2 separate regions of the Homo sapiens genome follow, and region 2 is linked to region 1. Evidence: fine-mapped expression QTL. Tissue or cell type: blood mononuclear cells. Region 1 holds a variant in brackets; the other region holds the start of a gene. All regions are shown on one strand. Distances are from middle to middle.

What was found. PIP is the estimated chance that this variant, and not a neighbour inherited with it, causes the effect.
Region 2: LRP6 starts here. The variant in region 1 is fine-mapped to the expression of LRP6 in blood mononuclear cells (TOPMed, PIP above 0.99).

Annotation. Positions count from the first base shown.
Region 1 is chr12:12,187,150-12,195,428 of GRCh38, reverse strand. The region is part of intron 3 of LRP6 (LDL receptor related protein 6); the gene reads left to right. Among named protein-coding and RNA genes, the nearest start is that of LRP6, 76 kb to the left of the region's middle. RefSeq lists a silencer at 4,180-4,474. The variant T/C (reference allele first, on the strand shown) is at 6,133.
Region 2 is chr12:12,263,545-12,269,762 of GRCh38, reverse strand. It overlaps LRP6 (LDL receptor related protein 6), which reads left to right and starts at 2,719. Exons shown (of 23, transcript NM_002336.3): 1 at 2,719-3,082. The coding sequence starts at 3,028. RefSeq lists enhancers at 2,489-2,538, 2,076-2,712, 5,889-6,218 and a silencer at 2,719-3,028.

The DNA.
Region 1 (8,279 bases):
ATTAAATTCACAATGAAGTATCATCTCACCCTAGTTACCATATGGCTATTACCAAAAAGACAAAAAATAATACGGTCAAGAATGCACAGAAAAGGGAACTCTTATACACTGTTGGTGGGAGTATAAACTAGTACAGCCGCTATGGAGAACAGTATGGAAGTTCCTCAAAAAATTACAAATAGAACTACCATATGATCCAGTAGTCCCACTACTTGGCATTTACCCAAAGGAAAGGAAATCAGTGTATCGAGACATCTGCACCCCTATGTTTGTTGCAGCACTATTTACAGTAGCCAAGATGTGGTATCAACCTAGGTGTCCAACATCAGATGAATAGATAAAGAAAATGTGGTATATATACACAATGGAATACCATTTAGCCATAAAAAGAATGAAATCCTGTCATTCTCAGCAATATGGATAGACCTGGAGGATGTTATCTTAAGTGACATAGGACCAGGAACAGAAAATTAAACCATGCATGTTCTCACTCGTATGTGGAAGGTAAATGTTGATCTTGCAAAAGTAAAGAGTAGAATAGGGGATACTAGAGGCTGGGAAGGAAGAGATAAGAAGAGATTTGCTAAAAAATACAGAATTACAGTTAGAAAAAGCTTGAGTATTCTATACCACTGTAGGATGACTGTACTTAATAGGTAAAACATTATATAATTTCAAAGAGGATACTGAATGTTTCCAACACAGAAATGTTAAATGTTTGAGATTATGGATATGCTGATTACCCTGAGCTGATCACGGTACCTTATATATATTGCAACATTGCTGTGTACCCCACAAATATGTGTAATTATTATGTACCAGTTAAACATTTTTTAAAACAGAGACTTTAAAAGAAATAGCAAATGAAAATGGGGCTTAAGACTAAACTATTTTTCTGTGGATGCACACTTACAAAAAGCAATAAAACTATAAAGGCAAGAAAGTGACTAATAGAAAATCAGAATAATTGTTACTTCTATGGAGAGGGAGGGATTGGGACAGGGTTCATGCAGGGCCTTTTGAAGTCGTCTGGGTGATTCACCCAGATCAAGTTTTTTTCCTTCATCTGAGTGAATTCGTGGTTACAAGAGTGTTTGCCTTATAGTAACTTGTTAAGCTATATGTTTGTTTTGTATGTTTTTCTCTGTATTGGCTTTATTTTTTAAAAAAGATTAAAAATAGTCTTGAGCATGATATTACCTGTAGGTTTTTTTAATAAAGGGATTTTATCAGGTTGAGGAAGTTCCTTTCTATTCCTAGTTCATGGACAGATTTACCATGAATAATTACTGGATTTTGTCCGTTCCTTTTTCTGCATCTATGGAAATGATTATGTGGTTTTATTCTTTATTTTATGAACATGGTGAATTTCAGTAATTGGTTTTCAGTTGTTAAACCGATCTTGCATTTCTGGGGTAAGTTCTACTTGGTCGTGGTTTATACTTCTTTTGAAATGTTGTTAGATTTGGTTTGCTAATATTCTGTTGAGGATTTTTATGTCTTTAATAGTGAAGGATATTAATCCGTAGTCTGTTTTTCTTGTGTTTATTTGGTTTTGAGATTAGCATAATATCAGCCTCATAGAGTCGGAAGATATTTCCTCTTTCTTTGTTTTCTGGAAAAGTGTGTGACCAGTTGATACAACTTTTCCTGCCATCTGGGCATGGGGATTTCTTTTTGGGAAGATATTAATTACAAATTCAATTTCCTTGTTTGTTGTAGATCTATCAGATTTTCTGTTTCTTCTTGAGTCAGTTTTAGTAATTTGGTTTTTTTCCAGGAATATTTTTGTTTCATAAATTTGTCTAATTTGTTGGCATAAAGTTGTTTATGGTATTGCCTAATAATCCTTTTAATTTCTGTAAGGCAGTGTTTCTCTTTCATTCATCACTTTATTCACAGTTTTCACAATTTGCGTCTTTTTTTTTGGGTCAGTCTAGCACTAAAGGGTTGTCAATTTTGTGGGTCTTTTCAAAGAACAACCAGCTTCTGGTTTTATTGATTTTTCCCCCTTTATTGTTTTTCTGTTTTCTGTTTCATTGCCTTTTTTTTTTTTAACCCTAATGTTTTTATTTTCTTCCTTACACTTGCTTTGGATTTAATCTACTCTTCTTACAGTTTCTTAAGGTCAAATCATAAATAATTGATTTGTAATCTCTCTTCTTTTCTAGTATAGGCATTAGTATTCTATATACGTTTCCATATTTTGTATTTTCATTTTCTTTTAGCTCAAAATATTTAAAAACTTTTATTGTAATTTCTTCCTCGACTCATTGCTGATTTAGAGGAAATTGAGAAAGAAATTTCAAAAATTTAGAAAATAATTTGATTTCCCAAATTTTCTTCCGTTGATTTCTTCATGAATTTCATTATGGTCAGATAGTAGTCTATTTTATATGAGTTCAGTCTTTTTATTTTATATGAGTTCAGTCTTTTAAGATTAATTCTGTCTCCTAGCATGTGGTGTCCTGGAGAAAGTTCCACGTGTACGTGAAAAGATTGTGTATTCTTTTGTTGCATGGAATGTTCTATAGATAGTAGGTTAAGTTGGTTAATAATGTTCAAATTTTCTATATCCTTGGTAATTTTCTATCTAGTTGTTCTTTCCTTTAGTGAGAATAGGGTGTTGAGCTCTCCAACTATATTATTGAACTGCCCATTTTTCCTTTGATTTCTGTCAGGTTTTGCTTCATTTGTTCTGGGGCTCTGTTTTTAGGTACCTGTATGTTTCTAATTGTAACTTCCTGATGACTCTTTCTCATAAAACCTGCCACTGTATCTCTAGTTACCTTTTTATACTTAAAATCTTTTTTGTCTGATAGAGCTGCTCCAGCTCTCTTATGGTTACTGTCTACTGTAACCTTTTCTTTTCAATCTATTTGTATCTTTGAATGTAAAATGTGCTTTTATAAACAGCATATAGTGTAACCTTTGCTTTATTCAGTCTAACAGCCTTTGCCTTTTGATTGGTGTGTTTATTCACATTGAATGTCATTAATGATATGGTTGGGCTTATGTCTGACATTTTAGTGTTTTTTTTTTTTTAAATTATCTTATGTCATCTTTGTTCCTTTGTCCTTTGTATTAAGTAGATATTTTCTGGTGTGTCATTTTGATTCCTTGGTTGATAATTTTAAACTGTATTTTGGGGATTTTAAAGGTAATTATTTTAGGGATTGCAACGTGCATTTTGTCAAAATCTACTTTGTGGTAATATTAACTTAATTATGAAAAGTACATACATTTTACTCTAAGTATATCTCCATTCTCTCTCCCATCCTTTCTGCTATTATTGTCATTTATAGTTCATTTCTATTATATCTAACACAGGGTTATACTTATTGCTTTATACAATCTTATGTCTGTTAAAAAGGTTAAAGGAAAAAGAGAAAACATTATTTATAGAGTCTTTTTTATTAACCTGCATATTTACTATTTCTGGTATTCTTCATTTTTCCTGAGGGTTCAAGTTACCATCTGGAGTCATTTCCTTGTTCCAGTATAGTTCTGTTCTCTTCCTTGTCCTTTGTCCTTCAAATATTTTATTTTTTGAAAATATTTTTTTCTATTATGTAATATTTCTTCCTTTTCATTTTTTTCTTTATGTATTATGTTTATTCATTCTTATTTCGTAGACTTCATTTCTGAAATGATGTATTTTTGTATTTCTCATTCTTTCAAGTTCTGTCCCCTCACTTGTGAGTTGTCTGATTCTAATTTGTGTTGTTCATTTATGACTAGTATCTTACTTTAAATACTTTGACTGTTTTGAAATAAGTTATCAGTTTAATTTGTTCTATTTCTATATCTTTCTGGCATACTTTTTTATTGTCTGTAGGAATGTTATTCTTCACTTTATCCTTTTCTTATTTTTAATATTAACTTATTAATGGGATTTGATGTTAGTAATTTGTTTTCTTATTTTCAGGTGAAACTGTTTTGCTTGAACATTCAGAAGAAGGCAGAGTTCATAAGTTCTCCAGTTTCACAGAACTCTCATGTCTATGTATATGTGTTTAAAAAATAATGGCAGCTAGCTTTCTGGATTTCCTGGCTCTCCCACTTTACTTTTTCTGCTTTTTTCTGTACCTTATTTTCCCATTGTTCTCCTGTACCAATCATGCACACTTTTCAGTCCGCTCCCAGTGATTTCTCTTCAGTATGACGCTTTGTCTGGAAGGGAGCCCGGGAAGGACAATTTTGAGAGTTCACAATAGGTTAAAGTATAGTGCTAGACCTTTCAGTGCCTGACGATGAATTCATTGTATTCACTTACTCTTGAAGTGGCCAGAACACCTCATAGCTGGTTGCTGTTCTCAGATTGGTCTACTAAGCTTTCCAATGTTGTCTGTTTTATGTGTTCTGTCCTGCCAGATGTCCTATTGTTTCTTTCTCATATCCTGCAGAGGTGCCAATATCAGTCATATCTTAATGGCTGTTGGTAGTTTTCTCTACCATTTTGTATCTTGGGTTTTACCTAGCTTTGTTGTGAATGTTGTCCATGGGATTTGGGGTTCATTACCTAGTTGTTCTCTGTTTTCACATGGAGGATTCATGGAGATTTTTCCAAAGCTTTGCCATCACTGCTGACATTGTCTTCTTAGATATTATTACAGCTTCACTGTGGTGAAGGGAAGCTTCCTTCCAAGGTTAAGTTCAGATGTCAGAACTCATGACAGCAGTCCTGTGGTATGATTAAAGAAAGATTTATTACTCACACAAGTGGGCAGTTCTGAGAGAGGAGCAGAAGATGACTATCTGTGAGGAGGTCCAGAAACAAAAACTAAATGAGGGCATGCAGGTGTTTTATAAAGGATAAGTCCAGTTGGTGCAGAGTTTAAAAGAACCACTTGCAGAGTTCAAAGAATCTCAAAGAGCTAGCAAGAGGTGCCTGGGAGGTATTGGCAGTGGTGAGCTTTATCAGTAAGTTGCAGAATGTGACAGACATAGGCAGGAGATGATGCTCAGAGATTGCAAGCACTATATGAAAACTTCAGTGAGGTTGGGGGGAGTCTCTGTTTCTTTTCTGTGGTCCCCAGTTTGGTGATCCATTTTTTAGTTTCTGTTATCGTTGTGACCTACTATTGAGGAACTGGGCTTGGATCTTACCTGCCAGCTTGGTTCTTAGCAGCCATGATCAACTCCTCCTTGAAGTAACTTGTGTTTCCAGATGGGGATCAGGAGGTAGGCTTACTTGGTAATCTCAGCCAGAGAGAAGAAAGGGGAATACTCTGTGTGGTTATCCCTACTTTCAGGAACAAGTCATAGTTGGCTGGACAAATCATTATATCACCCTTGCATGATAGTGTTCTTAGTTCTGCCTTTTGTTCAGCTCTGTTAATTACATATTTTCTTAAAAACATTTAATTTTATCAAGCATCCCCAGAGTGTTTAGTAAGTCTGCCTAATTTGTACACCTTACCATTGTGTGGGATCCTTGGTATATAAATAAGCTAGAGTTTTACTCTCAAAAAGGTCATCTGTTATAGAGTTGCTGGATAGGTGAACAGTTATAAAACAGTTCACTAACTGTTATGAGAACGTAGAGAAAGAAAACTAACTTGGCTTGTGGCGGGAGGAAATTAAGAATGGCTATGAAAAGAAAGTGACATTTATATTTAGTGTTAAGGCCGGGCTCGGTGGCTCACGCCTGTAATCCCAGCATTTTAGGAGGCCAAGGTGGGCAGATCACCTGAGGTCAGGAGTTTGAGACCAGCCTGGTCAACATGGTGAAACCCCATCTCTACTAAAAATACAAAATTAGCCAGGCATGGTGGTGCATGCCTATAATCCCAGCTACTTGGGAGGCTGAGGCAGGAGAATTGCTTGAACCCTGGAGGCGGAGGTTGCAGTGAGCCAGGATCACACCACTGCACTCCATCCTGGGTGACAAGATCAAGACTTTGTCTCAAAAAAAAAATTAATATTAGTATAGTATTTACTGATTCTAATAAGCCATTGATTTTAAGAACTTACTGATTTTAAAAACTACCACATGAAATATTCACATTGTAAATGTTACCCTTATATCAGAAATGTTAAAATATTGAAAATATGTGTCTTAAAATTGAGGAATCATTAACGAAAGTGTTAAGTAGCAAGCGTAGTGCTGAATGGCTTTTGCGTATGTTA[T/C]TTAATCTTCACATTAACGCAGTGAGGATAGATTATTACCTTCCGTTGACAGATGAAGAAATAAAGCTTGCAGAAATGGTGTCAGTAATAAGTGTCAAGGGGGGATTTAAGCTCACCTCTGAGTTCTAAGTTTATGCATTCAATTAATATATAAAATGAATATAGCTTTTAGGGATTTTGCCTTTTCCATATGTTTATTTTCCTATGTTTAGTTCAGTAGAGTGAATTTCAACTTTTCACTTAATGATATACAAAACTTTTTGAAGCCTTTTTTTTCCTTGAGTTTTTCAAAGCAGTTCTTTAAGATGGTGAAATGCCAAGTAACTTAGTTTTAACTACTCTTTATTTTTCATTTGTGTTACTTGTCTTTTTTGGCAGCTTTCTCAGTTCTCTCTCTGTTTCCACCATGAATTTTGGAAGACTTTAGTGTGAAATATACAGGCCTGTTTAAAATTGAACATAAACTGTGCCATCACCCTGTAAATAATATAGTCTCTTTAGTAAATTTAATAAAACTGTCCATTTAAAAAGTGGAAGAAAGCACTTCAGGAGAAGGTATTGTGACAGTTCTCTTTGGGAAATTAGAAGGAATAGTGAGCTTTTTACTTAGGGAAGAGAGGATTAAGGAAAATGAGAAAACTGGTGATATGGGTTGGCAGTGCAGGTATTTTGTCTGAATTTATAATGCTTTAGACTAAGATCATTCCATGTGCAATCACAGACGGTAATCCTGCTTACACGTAAAAATGACCTTAATTGCTTTTAATTTAATATGCTGGTAGTCTGTTAGATAGTAGAAATCATCAGTTAACCTCAAGGACCTGAAAATTGAATCATCTTCCTTAAAATATATGATACTTTTAATTTCTCTTCAGTAGCTTATGCTTTCCCTTCCCTTTTCCCTTCATTTTTCTTTCCCTTCCTCCCTCTCTGCCCATCTCTGCCTCCTGGGTGGGCTATTGGGAAACTTGGATTTATGAAAATATCAAAACATGTATTTTCTTGAATATTATTTTGACTCAAAACGTGATTTGTTCATTATTCCAGAGCATTTGCTTATTCTTTTTTTTTTCTTTTTTTTTTTTTTGAGATGAGTCTCGCTCTGTCGCCCAGGCTGGAGTGCAGTGGCGCGATCTCGGCTCACTGCAACCTCCGCCTCCTGGATTCAAGCAGTTCTCTGCCTCAGCCTTCCGAGTGTCTGGGATTACAGGCGCCCACCACCACGCCTGGCTAATTTTTTTGTATTTTTAGTAGAGATGGGGTTTTACCATCTTGGCCAGGCTGGTCTTGAACTCCTGACCTTGTGATCCACCCACCTCGGCCTCCCAAAGTGCTGGGATTACAGACGTGAGCCACTGCGCCCGGCCCTCAGCATTTGCTTATTCTATAACTCTCTCTAATACTCTACAAAGTTCTGTGCCTTAAGTACTAACTAGGCTGTCTACTTTTCCTTTTAAAAAGTATGTATTGCTTGTGAAAATTTTGGATCTGCTTTGTCTCATGAACATATTCTACCACTAACAGGACTTCTTTTTGGCTGCCTGAATATAGTGAAAAGTCAGCTAAGATGATCACTTGCTGGAGCTAGACTGGGGTTTGCGGGGAGAGTGCTACCTGCATGCCATTTTGGCCTCATGTTTATGTTTCATTCTCAGTTATCAAAACCATAAGAAGTGATGGACAAAACAGGCTCAGGTTCTTTGTTCTTCCACATCAAGAAGGAAAAAACCTATTGCTGATATAAATCTACTTCAGTGCCAACTGTAACCCCTGTGATTTTTCTCATTGCTTACCTTTCTCTGTCTGATGACATGAATTGTGTGAAAGGGTGGAAGCTGTGAGTCCAGAGATGGTAGTTGAAGAGTAGGATTTGACAGCAGTGCAAACAATGAAAAAGCAGTGCTCTCTCTCTGCCGGGTATCTTGTACTGAACTTGAGGCTGCTGCCAAGTTAGGGACTATTCCCAAATGCTTGTTTGGGGCTTTTGGACACCTTAAAAATATATATGAATTCATTATGTGAATTATTTTTTATAGGTGTATTTGACCTATTGGTATGTATTACTCAAGATTTGTATGTGTTAATGTGAACTAAGATCATTTTAATGGGAGAGGTGACGTTATGATAGAAGAAGAAAATTTAGAAAT
Region 2 (6,218 bases), 75 kb before region 1:
AAATGTACATGCACTTTCACTTTTTAAAAGCTTAACTCGGCCGGGCGCGGTGGCTTACGCCTGTAATCCCAGCCCTTTGGGAGGCCAAGGAGAGCGGATCACTTGAGGTCGGTAGTTCGAGACCAGCCTGACCAACATGGAGAAAGCCCGTCTCTACTAAAGATACAAAATTAGCTGGGTGTGGTGGCGCATGCCTGTAATCCCAGCTACTCAGGAGGATGAGGCAGGACAATCACTTGAACCTGGGAGGAGGAAGTTGTGGTGAGCCGGGATTGTGCCATTTTACTCCAGTCCAGGCAGCAAGAGCACAACTCCGTCTCAAAAAAAAAAAAAAAAAAAAAAAAAGCTTAACTCACTATAAACATTCAACACTGTTGCATAATCCTCTAAATTATTATTTTTCAGCAGTGTGTAATATCTCATTCCCCTACTTAGGTTGATAGTCTGAGGAGATTTAGGTTGTACCGCATTTTCTTTTTTATTTTATTTTATTTTTTTCGAGACGGAGTCTCGCTCTTTCGCCCAGGCTGGACTGCAGTGGCGCTATCTAGGCTCACTGCAAGCTCCGCCTCCCGGGTTCACGCCATTCTCCTGCTTCAGCCTCCTGAGTAGCTGGGATTACAGGCGCCCGCCACCGCGCCCGGCTAATTTTTTGTATTTTTAGTAGAGACGGGGTTTCACCGTGTTAGCCAAGATGGTCTCGATCTCCTGACCTCGTGATCCGCCTGCCTCGGCCTCCCAAAGTGCTGGGATTACAGCCGTGAGCCACCGTGCCCGGCCAGTTGTACCGCATTTTCTATTATAAATAGGGACAGATCCAGGCTTTGTGGGACTTGAAGCTTATACAATTTTGTATAATACAATTATACAGAAGAGGAATTCAAAATTATCTTTGTTTTGCAAATAGGACCATGTGAACATACCATAAAGGCCCCTCCCCAGACATTGGAAGGGGCCTGTGAAAGTGAAGGTTAACTTTCTTTTCTTTTTTTTTTTTTTTCTGAGACGCAATCTTGCTCTGTTGCCCAGGCTGGAGTGTAATGACGCGATATCGGCTCACTGCAACCTGCGCCTCCTGGATTCAAGCCATTCTCCTGCCTCTGCCTCCTGAGCAGCTGGGATGACAGGCGTGTGCCACCATGCCCGGCTAATTTTTTTTGTATTTTTAGTAGAGACGGGGGTTTCACCATGTTGGACCAGGCTGGTCTCGAACTCCTGACCTCGTGATCTGTCCGCCTCGGCCTCCCAAAGTGCTGGGATTACAGGCCTGAGCCACCCGCCCCCGGCCCAGTTTCCTGCTTTGAGGAAGCCAGAATACAAAACTCACTTGGTTCTTAGAAGCAGGTCATTTAAATAAACGGTGACTAGACCTCAGGTGAATTTGGGAGAAAGTGATTTGGCTGTTTCTGCTGTCCATCTACTTACAAACCTGCAGCACCTTTGGTTCAGCGCGCATTTCTTGGAAGGAGCGGAGTGGCTTAAGTCAGAGACCTGGATTGGGCTGAGGTACTGCTATTCATTACTTGAGTGGCCCTGGGTAAGTCATTAACCTCTCAGGTTCTCATTTTGCTCCTCTGTGCAATAAAGAATAAGTAACAAAACCTGCCTTTCCCCAGGGTAGTTTTGAGTGTCAAATATGATAACTTGTGTTCAAGCACTAGTGAACTCCAATGTCACTGAGGTACTTGTTAACATTGTGGTAGCAGCTCCACTTTCTTGCCCATCTGCCTCCAGGTAAGGGCGTGTGACAGCTGGGCAGGATGCATCTGATGGCTCCATTAGGGTTAACTGTTGGAGCGCCTCTGCCCAGACGAAAGCCTGGCAGGTGATTTCAGGGGGCGTCTGGGCCATTACTCCTGAATGCCCAATGCACTGGGAGTAGCAGAGGCTGTGCACAGTCTGAGATTCTAGGGAATCTTTTCCTTCTCAAGCTGAGAATTGATAATCGAAGCATGCCAAACATTCGTTATTATATGCAACTTGTAAAATCCTAAATAGTCTTGTCCAATTGTCCCTTTGCTCTTAGGTTTTGAGGCATTTATCTTGGAATTTTATCTGCCAGTTTAGAAATCTTTAGCTGGTCGGGCTTAATTCTGGGGGCAGTTTGTATTTCTGGGAAGGCGGGAGAAAAATGACAATCTCAGTTTTGAATTGGCGTTTTAATATCGTTCACCAGATCCACGCTGAAAGCCGGTGTAAACAGCGTTCAAAAATTCCGCCCTCCCAAAAAAAGGATGCTGAAACCGATTTCCAACCCCGAAGACGGAGCTCATCACCCCGCAACGGGATCCGCCGTGGCTCCCCGCGCGTGCACCGCGGCTGGGCAGTCTCAGGTGGCTGGGGGCGCGAGACCGGAGCCCCACCTGGCCCTGCCGGCGGCGGCCGCACAAAGAGCGGGGCAGACGGCTGCCCGGCCGAGCCGCAGAAAGTAGTCCCGACCACGCCGGCTCCAATGTTGTTCAACGCCGCCTCACGCCCTCCGCGGGGAGGGCCGAAGCGGCCGGTCCGGGAAAGAATCCCGCTGGAATGCGCCACCGGGAGGAGGCTTTCCCTCCCAGTTCGCCTCTGCTAGCCCAGAACCTCTCCCAGGGTCTCAGGCAGAGGCTGTGCGTGCGGTTGCCGACTCCCTTCCCTGGCCGTACAGGAGGCAGTACCGGGAGAAGGGGCTCGTTGCGCGCAGGGACACGGTCGCGGCGACCCTAGGAGGCGGTGCCGACCGTATCCCTGCGCCGCTGCGCGAGGCAGAGGCTGAATGAGGAGCTGCGCGGGGGAAGCGGGGCGCCGGGGGAGGAGGCGGCGGGATGGAAGCAGACGCTGGCGTCGCGCGAGCCCGGGGCCGAGCGGCGCGGTAGAGAGGGCGGCGGCGGCGCGCGCGGAACCTTGACGTGCCCCTTTCTTTCTTCTCTCGCTGGGAAGCTGGGAAGTATGAGCGTGCAGCCCTGCCGCTGCGGCGGCCGCCCCGGCTCCTCGCCTCCCCCACTTCTGGCCACCCCTCGCCGGTGAGAGAAGAGAACGCGAGAAGGGAAGATGGGGGCCGTCCTGAGGAGCCTCCTGGCCTGCAGCTTCTGTGTGCTCCTGAGAGGTGGGAAGAGTGGGGGCACTGGAAAGTTGGTGGGGTTCGGGGGGAGGTGGCCTTGTTGTATGTGTCTAGGGGGAGGGGAGGGACGGAGGAAGGGAGAAGGGGAGAGGAGCGGGGAGAGGCCTGGTCGTGGGGAGGGGGAGAGAAAGGGGCCCGGGAGCAGGGGCTGCGTGCACCGCCCGGCCACAATGCGGACCTGGCCTGGCTTCCCAGACCTTCCCCGGACACATCGGAGCTTCGATCCCGGCTGCTGGTCTTAGGGAACCCTTGGCACCCCATGCTGTCGGGATGACTGAGTGTCTGTGTGCCTCTCTCTGCCTGGGGTCTTCCAGGGAAAAGGGTCTTTGTACGTATTTTGGCTTTTAAAATGTTTGAGTCCGAGATGCTTTAAGGTTGGCCTTATCCATCGAAGCCCCGCCACCCACTCCCCACCCCGTTTCGGTGTTTCTTAGGTGAACTTTTAAAGCCCTCTTGCTATTTTTTCCAGGCCTTGTTACAGGTAATGATTGGCTTCCGTTTGGGATATAATGACCCTGGGTGAGAGCGCAGTTGGAAAGTGACTCCGGGGTTATAGGTCGAGCGTTTCAGCATTGGGAGCCTTCTGAGCTTCAGCCCATAATAAAATAAAACATTGCCCTTGTAACCTCTGGTATTCACGGCTTGCCCCTATTTTCGGAGTATGCAAGTGTACAGTTGGCACTAAGTAGGGAAATTCATCCTCGTGTGAAGAGGAGCCGGTCCTGGGACCAAAATGATAATTTGCTCTGCACCCCTGGGGACTGCTTGGCACTTTGGTAAATTGCATAGGCTGTTCGAGATAATTTGCTCTGGGAATCGCTTGAATTCGATGGCACTATGATGTTTTGAATTGGACTGCAAAGCTGACACATGCTCTGTGACTTTTGTGACAGTTCACAAAGATTTTTGACTGGCCCGTCGGCAGCTCTTCTCAAACTATTTAGTGTTGAACTTGAGATGGCTGTGATGGCTGTGGAGCATTTACCAGCAGAGGAATTTAAGTACTGCTCGATACGGTGGCTTGTAGTTTTGGTTTGGTAAAGTTCTTACTGGCGTTCATAGTAAGTTCTTTTCAGGCATGTGACCGCTGGTCGCTGGAGATTTTTAGGTGTTAACAAGCTAAACTTTTGTTAAGTTCTCCAAACTAATTTAAGTTTACAGAACACTAATAGTAACTAATAGTCTGTGACAGGTGTATATTTTTGCGTGTACTGTGTATATGTATTTCGGATGAGAATGATTGAGTTTTTTTTTGGAGGAGGAGAAATACTTTCTTCAGTTACTCTGTAGTAATGCAGCATTGTGTTTGCATGTTATATTACTTGATACTCTAAGCATATTACAAAGTTTTCCCACATGTAAACCCCGGAAAGGTAGTGTTCATTAGATTTTTGTGGCAGAAATTTTAATGAAGTGTTACGTACTGGAGAGGTTTCATAAGTATATACTTATTTTATTATTGGCATACTCTATTGAAAGGGGTTTTGCTGTAGCTGTTAGAAACAACTATATTTGACATAAGAATATGTATGTATTTTAAGACATAAGGTTAATAGGGCTGACAAATATGAGAACCAGCTGATTGGTTAGAGTCGTGGGAAAACTTATAACTTGGGATGTTTCTGGTTGTCTAGTTGTATTTCTTGGAGGAGAAGCGTGTGATGTAAATGCCGTTTGTTTAACACCAGCTTTGAGACCAGAGCTGGGTTTGTTCATTATTGGAATTTAGATAGGTTGCACTTATTTATGTAACAAGACCTGGAAGAGGTAATAGTTTAAATTGTCTCGTTTCCACTAGCAAAGTTTTCAGAAGTGGAGCTCTCGTTTTAAATGTGGCGAAATATGGTGTAAGGTGGTCTTCTAATATGTAACAGTACTGTACTTAGCTGTGAGTACATATTATTTGAAGTAAAACTGTCTTTTGATGTAAAATATTTTTGTTCATAATTTAGAATTAATTCATTCTTTGAGAATGTCATCCTCTGTTATAGTAAAGATATTTAGTCAACCTTGGACTCCAAGGAGAAAAATCTGATTGATTTGTTGCATTTAGGTCATTTTTTTCCCCCACAAAGAATTGGGGCTTTAACATTGGCTGGGTGTGATGGGGTATGTGAGAGTCTGGGAGACCTTCTGTCCTGTAGCCCTGTTGAATTAGTAGCAGAAAGCCAGGGAATACTGTTAGTGCTGTGTCCCTATCTCTATCATCACATGACAAGGTATAAAGGAAAGATTTGGGAATTTCAATACTAAAATCTTGGATTTAAAGCCCAAGTGTCACAACTTCATAACTTTGTGGTTCTGGTCTAGTCCGCTTCTCTAGGTCTCAGTTTCTTTACTGGTAGTGTGGATAATGATACCTGACTAGTTTGCAGGGTTATTGGGTGTTTTAAATGAAATAATATGGAGTACCTTGTTAATGTTACTTTTTGCTATAATTTTTGCTTGTTCAGGGACATATCCTCAAATGCTTTCATGATTTGAGATTTAATTTGTATAACGTTCACAATTTTTTTTTTTTTAAAGAGACAAAGTCTTGCTTCATCACTCAGTCTGGGGTGCAGTGGTGTAATCACAGCTCATTGCAGTCTCAAAGTCTTGGGCTTAAGTGATCCTCCTGCTTCATCCTCCCAAAGCTCTGAACTATAGGCACGTGCCACTATGCCCCCAATTTTTTGTAGATATGGGGTTGGTGTGGGGGTGTCTTGATATGTTGCCCAGGCTGGTCTCCAACTCCTGGCCTCAAGTGATCCTCTCAAAGTGCTGGGATTACAGGTTACAGGTGTGAGCCACCATGCTTGGCCAGGTTCACGAATTCCTATTTTTTTTTTGGAGGTAGGGTCTTGCTCTGTTGCCTAGGCTGGAGTGCAGTGGCATGATCGCTGCTCACTGCAGCCTGGACCTCCTGTGTTCATGTGATCTTCCCACCTCAGCCTCCCAAGTAGCTGGGACCACAGTTGTGTGCCATAACACTTGGCTAATTTTTATAGAGCCAGAGTTTTGCTATGTTGCCCAGGATGGTCTTAAACTCCTGGGCTCAAGTGATCCTCCCACCTCCGCCTCTCGGAGTTCTGGGATTACAGGTGCAGATTCACACATTCTTTTTTTTTTTTTTGAGACG